Regions from separate parts of the Homo sapiens genome. Here region 1 is linked to region 2. Evidence: fine-mapped expression QTL. A gene starts in region 2. The other region holds a variant in brackets. All regions are shown on one strand. Distances are between the middles of the regions.

Region 1 (4,385 bases), 39 kb before region 2:
CTTAAAATCAATAGACTGGGTGGTTTTCTCTTTCTTAAACAAAATACTAAGTCAGGGGGAGAGGAATGTTAAAGAACCCCAGGAGACACGCTTTCTGGGAACTTTGTGCAATAAGAGATGTTGGGCAGCTACCACCTGTCTAATGAGCATTTACCAGACTAAGCACTTTACATCCCTTTTATTTAATCCTCTCAACATCCCTATTAGGTGAGTCTTGTTACCTTCATTTTACAAAGGACAAAACTGAGGCACAGGGGCCAGGTTCGCGGTGGCTTAGGCCTGTAATCCCAGCACTTTGGGAGGCTGAGGCAGACGGATCACCTGAGGTCAGGAGCTCAAGACAAGCCTAGCCAACATGGCAAAACCCCATCTCTACTAAAAAATACAAAAACGAGGCCAGGCGCGGTGGCTCACGCCTGTAATCCCAGCACTTTGGGAGGCCGAGGCAGGCGGATCACGAGGTCAGGAGATGGAGACCATCCTGGCTAACACGGTGAAACCCCGTCTCTACTAAAAATACAAAAAATTAGCCAGGTGTGGTGGCAGGTGCCTGTAGTCCCAGCTACTTGGGAGGCTGAGGCAGGAGAATGGCATGAACCTGGCAGGCGGAGTTTGCAGTGAGCCGAGATCACGCCACTGCACTCCAGCCTGGGCGATAGAGTGAGACTCCGTCTCAAAAAATACCCCCAAACACTGAGGCATAGGGGTATGAGTTACTTGCCAAAGAACACGTAGTAAGTGACAGAACTGGGGTTTGAATCAAGTCTGTCTCCAAGGTCTGTGCAGTTGCAGGGAGCGATGGGGAAGGTCCCCCATTCCAGGTTCCTCTCTGTCCCTAAGGAACAATTCCCTGTCTTCACAAGTCAATCCCCATTTGGTTCTGACTGCTCTTCCTCCTCAGCACTAGCAGACTCAGGAAACCGTCTCTGGAGTGTACATATTCTGAAGGTCATATTTCAAATCAAATAGTCCTTCAGAGTCCCTCCCGTCCTCCCTCCCTCCTTCTTCCTCTCTCTCCCCCATCTCTCCTCTTTTAAACAGAGATGAGGTCTCTATGTTGCCCAGGCTGGTCTCAAGCTACTGAGCTCAAGCACTCCACCCACCTCTGCCTCCCAAAGTGCTGGGAGTACAAGCATGAGCCACTGTACTGGGCCCAGACCTTTTTCTGAAACTTCCCTTTATTTTTTGTGTCCTTCCCATGGATGCTGGGCTCCATACCCACACTCCAACACTGCGCCCAACCTGAGATCTCTCTACACAGTAGGAACTGATGTTTCCGAGACCAGCTCTGAGACACCACCCGCCCTGGCCACTGGCACCCCCCGTTTCTGTCAGCTCCTCCCAGCTTAACACACAGTCACCACCTCATACATGCACTTTTCCTTATATATAGAACACTGTAAATTACACATTTAATATATTCATATGTTTAAGTCAGTGTGAGAACAAATAAAGCATATTTTGACCTCTATGACAGGGGGCTGGCTCTGTCTCATAGTAGGCACTCAAAAATTTTTAGGAAGAAATAAGGACTCCTGGGCCTGAAGGGATCTTAGGGAATCCTATCATCCTACAGTCCTCGGGAAACACTCCCTGCAACTGCATAGGCTTTGGAGACAGACTTGGATTCAAACCAGCATCAGCTCACCTAGTCAGGTGTGGTGGTGGGAGCCTGTAATCTCAGCTACGCTAGAGGCTGAGGCAGGAGAATTGATTGAACCGAGGAGGCAGAGGATGCAGTGAGCTGAGACTGCGCCACTGCATTCCAGCCTGAGCGAGACTCCATCTGAATGAATGAATGAATGAATGAATGAATGAATGAACTGGAACCAAAACTAGAACCAGGTCACCCGGCTCCTCATGCCATGTTCACTCCATGGATCACATTGCCTCAAAGGCAAAGTCAAACAGCCCGTTGTGTTAGCAGGCCTCCCACTGACAGCTCTTTAGAGATAGGCAATTTGGGCCACCTGAGGAGGTTATGAGGCCAGGACAGGAGATCCGGGCAGTAGCAGGTATGTTCATTGTTAACTTGTGAAACACAACTAAGCTGCAAAGACTACACTTTGGACTCCACACTGACCAATCTCACACGAGATCTCTGTTTCTGGTGGGGACTGGGCAATGCGGCAGAGTCATGAGGCATGAGTATGGGAAGTCAGCTCTCACTAGCTCTGAGGCCTTGGCCGACTGCTGGCACCTTCTGAAATGTAAGATGGGGCCGAGCCTGTGGCTCACACTTGTCATCCTAGCACTTTGGGGGGCAGAGGTGGGAGGATCACTTGAGGCCAGGAGTTCAAGGCTACAGCAAGTTATGATCATGCCGCTGCACTCCAGCCTGGTCAACAGAGCACGACCCTGTCTCAAAAAAAGTCATAATAAGATGGCCCATAGAGGCTCTGCTTTAAACAC[A/G]AACACTTCAATCACTTATTACTTGTATTGGCGATGGTGATGGGAACAACATCCAGGCAGACTGTAGGATAACACCTAAGGATGTTAGTGTCTCTAGGAGTCATCAATTGGAACATTCCTTCATTCAAACTTTGAACATTAGGGTGGGGTAGACTGAGACTCAGTCCAAGGAAAACAACTGACTGCCATTCAGACCTGGCTCAGCCTAAGAAAAAAGTACGCTTTAGACTGCAGTAAGAGGAATTGTGGTGAGAAGGGCCATTCGGTATTGGGCAGTTCCTGGAAGGTGTCATCAAATACATGCAGCTTCCTCTAAGGTTGTACAAGGAGACAGAGAAAAAAGACCTCATGAGTCCTTGAGTCTTCCCTTGATCCTTCCAATCTGACACTATTGTGAGGAAACGCAGAGGTCTTTTGCACTGCAGGCTTCTGCCTGGTAATGTAAGGGCACAGCCCACAACAGTGTACCCTAAGATACCACCCCAGCCTACCAGCTAGAGGCCTGTATTTTGACCTCTAAGACAGGGGGCTCTCCTGCCCTCCTCTCTTCCTGGGCCACCTGGAGAATAAGTGTGTCACTCCCTCCCTTTTTCCTCCTTCCCCATGAAGGTCAATGAGAAACTGTAAATAGCAAGGATGAGGGAAAGTGAGGAGGCCAGGGAGGCCATTGCATTCATCTGTGTTCTAAAATATCCAACTCAGCCACATGCGGTGGCTCACGCCTGCAATCTCAGCACTTTGGGAGGCCAAGGCAGGTGGATCACTTGAGGTCAGGAGTTTGAGACCAGCCTGGCCACCACAGTAAAACCTCCATCTCTACTAAAAATACAAAAATTAGCTGGGCGTGGTGACGCATGCCTGTAGTCCCAGCTATTATGCTTGGGAGGCTGAGGCAGGAGAATCGCTTGAACCCAGGGGTGGAGGCTGCAGTTGAGCCAAGATTGTGCCACCGCACTCCAGCCTGGGTGACAGAGCAAGACTCTCTGTCAAAAAAAAAAAAAAATCCAACTCAATTCCAGGTCATGCTTTGGGTCTGTCCAGGAGTATGAACACTAGAGGAATACAGAGCCTGACCTGGCTCTCAACTGTCGAGGCCTGGAGGTCCAGGAGGGTTGACCGCCCTTTAACACATGTACCCCTCACATACTAATACAGAAATGCTGTTACATTCTATGATCTTCATCCCCTAAACGACCTTATTTCCAACTTCCTCTAGCACCTACCCATCAGACCCCCAGGATGAGATGAAGTAAGAGGCTGAAAACAAGCAAGATGACGAACATGAGCATAGCAGAACCAGAACGCAAGTCATGGCTGGGGGGTGGCAAAAGGAACTGAATACGGAACAGAAACCCTTAACTTCTCTTGCTGCTGCCCAATCCTCTTGTGATTCCAGACAGCCATTTCATTTAAAATCCCTTTCAGAAGCCTGTCATCTTGCATTAGAGCTGGGAGGGGGGTTGTGTTCTGGGTTGGCTGATGATACATGGACTTCTGAGACATGCACCTAGGCGGACTCAACAAATATTAAACATCTGCTCGGTCAGACCCTCTGCTCAACTCTGCACACACAAAAGACAATGAGATGCAGAATGGTGGGTGCCAGGGGCTGGAAGGTGGAGGGTTCAGAGAGTCAGTGTTTAATGGGTACAGAGCTTCATTTGGGGAGGATGAAGAAGTTCTGGAGATGGATAGTGGTTACAGTTGCACAACAATGTGAATGCACTTAATGCCACAGAAGTGTACGCTGAAAAATGGTTATAATGGTAAGTCTTACATATACTTAATCACATTAAAAAACAACAACAACACATTTTTAAAGGGTGGGGGGAAATGAGACAGCCTTCCTCTCCTCCCTCTGAAGAGGCTTTCTTTTGAATTATTCGACTATCTTTCCTGCAGACCAAATATTCTGAAGTCTTCTGCATGTCCTCTTCATCATCACAGTGATCTACCCAGCGGCCCTACATTTA
Region 2 (4,385 bases):
GAGGCCAGGAACACGGTGGCCACCTGAGCGCTTCCGGATCATCCCCTCCCTGTGGGACAATCAGGAAGAGAGGCGGGATGAGGACTCCAGACCCCCAGCCCACCCTGCACTGCTTGCCCCAATCTCAGGCAGGGAGAAATTAAGAGTGATGTCTACGGATGCCTGGGTGAAGGGGGCCAGACACTCACAGTCCTTTGCGGCCCAAGTCCGGGATAAAGGACAGCTGACTGACTTCCAGGAACTCTGTCTGCAGAGGAAAACAAAAGCCCGGAGGAGACACCTGGCTTTCAGCCCCTCAGACCCTGGGGCCCCTGGCCCTCCTCCCCGAGGGTCTGATAATCCTGCTCCACATCTAAAATCGGCCCCTGGACCTTACCATGGCATGGTAGTTGCGATAGAAAGACATGGTCAAGAGACGGTTGAGGTAATTCTCCAGGTATTTCTGAAGTGGAGATGAGAGAGAGAGAGAGACAGATGGGACCGAGCCATTTGCACCTCCAATGCCTTCCCGGAGGACCTGGCATCTGGTCCCACCTGTTTGCTGGCTGCATGTCTGGTGGAGCCCTCAGGACCTGCCCGGGGTAGAGAGGGCATCTCTCTGTTGCCTGCATCTCGGGCTGGAGAATAGGCAACGGCAAATCTGTGGAAAGGATGGATGAAGGTCAGGTAAGAGCTGGGAGGCTGGGTGCTCTGGTTCCTGAAAACACTGGAGATGGGGCTCGGAGGAAAAGAAGAGGCCTGGAGGTGGCCAGGCGTGGTGGCTCACGCCTGGAATCCCAGCACTTGGGGAGGCCGCAGCAGGTGGATCACTTGAGCTCAGGAATTTAAGACCAGCCTGGGCAACACAGCAGCACCCCATCTCTACAAAATATACAAAAATTAGTTGGGTGTGGTGGCTGTGGTCCTAGCTACTCTGGAGGCTGAGACGGGAGGACTGCTTGAGCCCAGGAGGTTGCCATGAGCCAAGATCATACCACTGCACTCTAGCCTGGGTGACAGAGGGAGACCTTGTACAAAACAAAAACAAAAAACAAACAAAAGGCCTAGAGGCTGGCAAAACGGAGGCCCCCTACCCTGGGAATGGAGACTAGAAAAGGGTGAGGCTGCCAAGAGCATTTTGGGCATCCCGCCCAGCTGAGATGCTGGCACAGAACCATGGACAGGGAAAGCTGAGCAGGGAAAGTTTCCTGGTAACTGGGGTCAGGGGAGGCAGCACAGTGGCCAGAGTTGCAGGGAGGAAAGGTTGTGGCCCCGGGGTGAGACAGACAGAAAGGAGGGTGGGGAGCACCTGCCCTCTACAGGAAGCAGTCCGGTCGCCCTCACCGAGCCAGAGGGAGCAGACTCATCAAGACTTTGTGTCTCAGGAGGTCCCGATGCAGCTCCTGAAAATGACGGTATTTCTTCTTGGTTGTCCAGGAAAAGTCGCCGTGAGTCAAGCGGACAGAATACAGAGTGCAGGTTCCCACCTAGGGGTATGAGGAACTGAATGGATGTCCCCTGCGTGGGTCCCCGCCTCCCCACTCTGGCCAGCCCTCCTTTTGCCCCTTCCCTGGGGCCAGCCCAGCCACCTTGGATCCATTCCGGGCCGCCCTCCCTTTCCCCCTCCCTGGGGCCAGTCTGGCCACCTTGGATCCGCTGGTATATCTTTCGGTGCCCACCACCTGGGCTGTGACAGGGACCCCAGGTGCGAACACCAAGGGGTGCACTTTCAGAGACTGAAGCTCATAGATGGCCAGAAACGGGTGCATCCGGTCGGCTGGGAGGAAAGAAAGTCGAGGAGTGTAGACCACAACAGGCCCCAGCCCCCTGGCTCCCGAACGCCTCTCCTCCCTGAGGGCCATCCATCTTCCCTGTGTACCTGGGTCCTCTCCCTCCTTCAGGGTGTCCACCTCATCGGACTCCATCTGGAGCTGGCTGGAGTCCAGTTCGTCCCCAGTGGGGAAGAGGCTCTCAGGGGTCGCCGTCATCCTAGGAACATTGGGAAGCCTCAGGGAGGCGAGCTGTCCTGCAGAACCCGCCCCCCATCCTAACTCCCGCAGGTCCTCCATCTCTTCCAGATCCTCCTCTTCCCCCACGGCCTCCTGACCGCCCGCGGATGACGCCTGACCAGTTTGCAACGCCCCACCGACCCCTTCGAGCCCCCATCCCCTACCTTAGTCCTTCATCCACAATCCCAGTCCCGCCCCCCGCCCCCCGCCCCGTCCCGTAACCAGAGCCCCGGGGAACACCCAGCCAGGCCCGGAAGGCTCCGACCTGGGGCGGCGCAGCAGCTGCGCGGGGAAGCGGCCCTGGGTGGTCCGGAGAGCGCGCGGCTACGGGGCTCACGCCAGGCCAGGCGGGCCGGGGGCAGGGGTCCAGGCGGGAATGAGGAAGTTACGCGATCCCAGCCGGGGGTAGAAATCCCGAAATCTGAGCGTGCGACTGAGTCTGGAGGCCCCGCAGCCCGAGCCCGTTCCGTCCCCGCCCGATTTCCGAGACCCGGGACCCCCGCGCGCCCCTTCCCGGCCCCCTCACCCTGGCAGACGGAGCCAGCGCCCGCGGGGGTTCCGGAGCCAAGAGAGCAGACCGGAGCTGCAGCCGGAGCCCACGCCCCGGCCGAGGCGGGGCCGGCCGAGGCGGGGCCGGGGCTCAGGGCCTGCCCTCGGGGGCGGGGCGGCCCCCGGCCTCACCTCCGCGGGATTCTCGTCTGTCCTGTCCCGCCCCCGCTGCCCTCGGCCCGCCCCGCCGCCCAGTGCGCCACCGAGAGCCCCGGGCAGGGGGCCGCCCTGTGCCCTGCAGGGCCGCGGGGCCGCGTAGCTCTCTCGGTGCGGCGGGTAAGTGCTGCCCGGCGTCGGGGCGTCCCGCGCCGTCGGTCCCAGCGTGCCCGGCCGCTGCCTCCCGGGGCACCCCGCGCTGCGCGCATCCCTCGGGCTCGGCGCCCGCCCCGGGCCCCTCCAGCCGCGGGCGCTGCCTCGGCGCCCGGGGGACGCGCCTCCGCTGCGGGAGCTGCCGGTAGGTGCCCCGCTCCCGGACCCGCTGCGAGCCACATTTGGCCTAGCCCAGATAGCGTTTGTACCTGGAAGGAATGAGGGCGTAAAAGGCCTGAGGGGTGGTGGCTACAAACCCATTAGTGTATGAAAGCGGGCATTCTTTCATTCATTCACCAAACATTTATTGCGCGCTTACTCCGTGCCAGAAATTGAGAGTATGGTAGTAAATAAGATGGTTAGAGAGCCTGCTCAGCTGGAATTGGCAGTCTAGGGGGAAATAAAATTTTTTCGGGTATTAAAATACAAGATATTTCAATCTTTTTTAAAAAGCAGATTTATTTTTCTCTTTTGATATACATGTGGGTTTCTAGTTTTGCCCATTGTTTTAGCTCCTGTAAACATTCCTGTAAGTTTGCGTGGATAGTTTTCCTTTATCTTGGGTAACTAGGGAGTGGAGTTGTTCGATCATATCAGTGTGTGTTTAACTTATAAGAAACTGCCAAACGATTTTTTTCTAAATGGTTTTTCCATTCTAGATTTCCAAAATCAGTGTATGGTGGTTCCAGTTATTCCATGGCATGGCCAACGTTGGATATTGTCAGTCTTTAGCGTTGGCCATTTAATGGGTGTTGTGGGCACATCATTGCAATTTGATTTGCATTTGTCTGGAGATCAATGATATTGACCATGTTTCATGTGCTGATTGGCCATTTGTATGTCTTCTTTTATAAAGTGCCTATTCAGTCTTTTGCTATTTTTTATTTATTTTTATTTTTATTTTTATGAGACGGAGTCTCGCTCTTTTTTTTTCTTTTTTTGAGATGGAGTCTTGCTGTGTTGCCCAGGCTGGAGTGCAGTGGCGCGATCTCGGCTCACTGCAAGCTCCGCCTCCCAGGTTCACGCCATTCTCCTGCCTCAGCCTCCTGAGTAGCTGGGACTACAGGCGTCCGCCACCACGCCCAGCTAATTTTTTTTGTATTTTTAGTAGAAACGGGGTCTCACCGTGTTATCCAGGATGGTCTCGATCTCTTGACCTTGTGATCCGCCCTCCTCGGCCTTCCAAAGTACTGGGATTACAGGCGTGAGCCACCGCGCCCGGCCAGAGTCTCGCTCTTGTTGCCCATGCTGGACTGCAGTGGCGTGATCTCGGCTCACTGCAACCTCCCCCTTCCAGGTTCAAGGGATTTCCGGCTAATTTTTGTATTTTTAGTAGAGACGGGGTTTCACCATGTTGGCCGGGCTGGTCTCAAACTCCAGACCTCAAGTGATCCGCCCTCCTCAGCCTCCCAAAGTGCTGGGATTACAGGCGTGAGCCACCGTTCCCGGCCTTTTGCTAATTTTTTTTTTTGAGACAGAGTTTCGCTGTTATTGCCCAGGCTGGAGTGCAATGGCGCGATCTCGGCTCACTGCAACCTC

What was found. PIP is the estimated chance that this variant, and not a neighbour inherited with it, causes the effect.
Region 1: its variant is the best candidate, but not a certain one, in a credible set for the expression of PLD2 in whole blood (TOPMed, PIP 0.51).

What each region holds. Positions count from the first base shown.
Region 1 is chr17:4,844,669-4,849,053 of GRCh38, reverse strand. The region is part of intron 1 of MINK1 (misshapen like kinase 1); the gene reads right to left. Among named protein-coding and RNA genes, the nearest start is that of MINK1, 14 kb to the right of the region's middle. RefSeq lists an enhancer at 1-104. The variant A/G (reference allele first, on the strand shown) is at 2,413.
Region 2 is chr17:4,805,355-4,809,739 of GRCh38, reverse strand. PLD2 (phospholipase D2) reads right to left here and starts at 2,588. Exons shown (of 25, transcript NM_002663.5): 1 at 2,515-2,588; 2 at 1,859-1,968; 3 at 1,626-1,756; 4 at 1,324-1,466; 5 at 535-640; 6 at 377-442; 7 at 189-247; 8 at 1-49. The coding sequence starts at 1,967. It also overlaps a transcript of C17orf114 not described here. RefSeq lists an enhancer at 653-1,852 and a silencer at 2,248-3,037.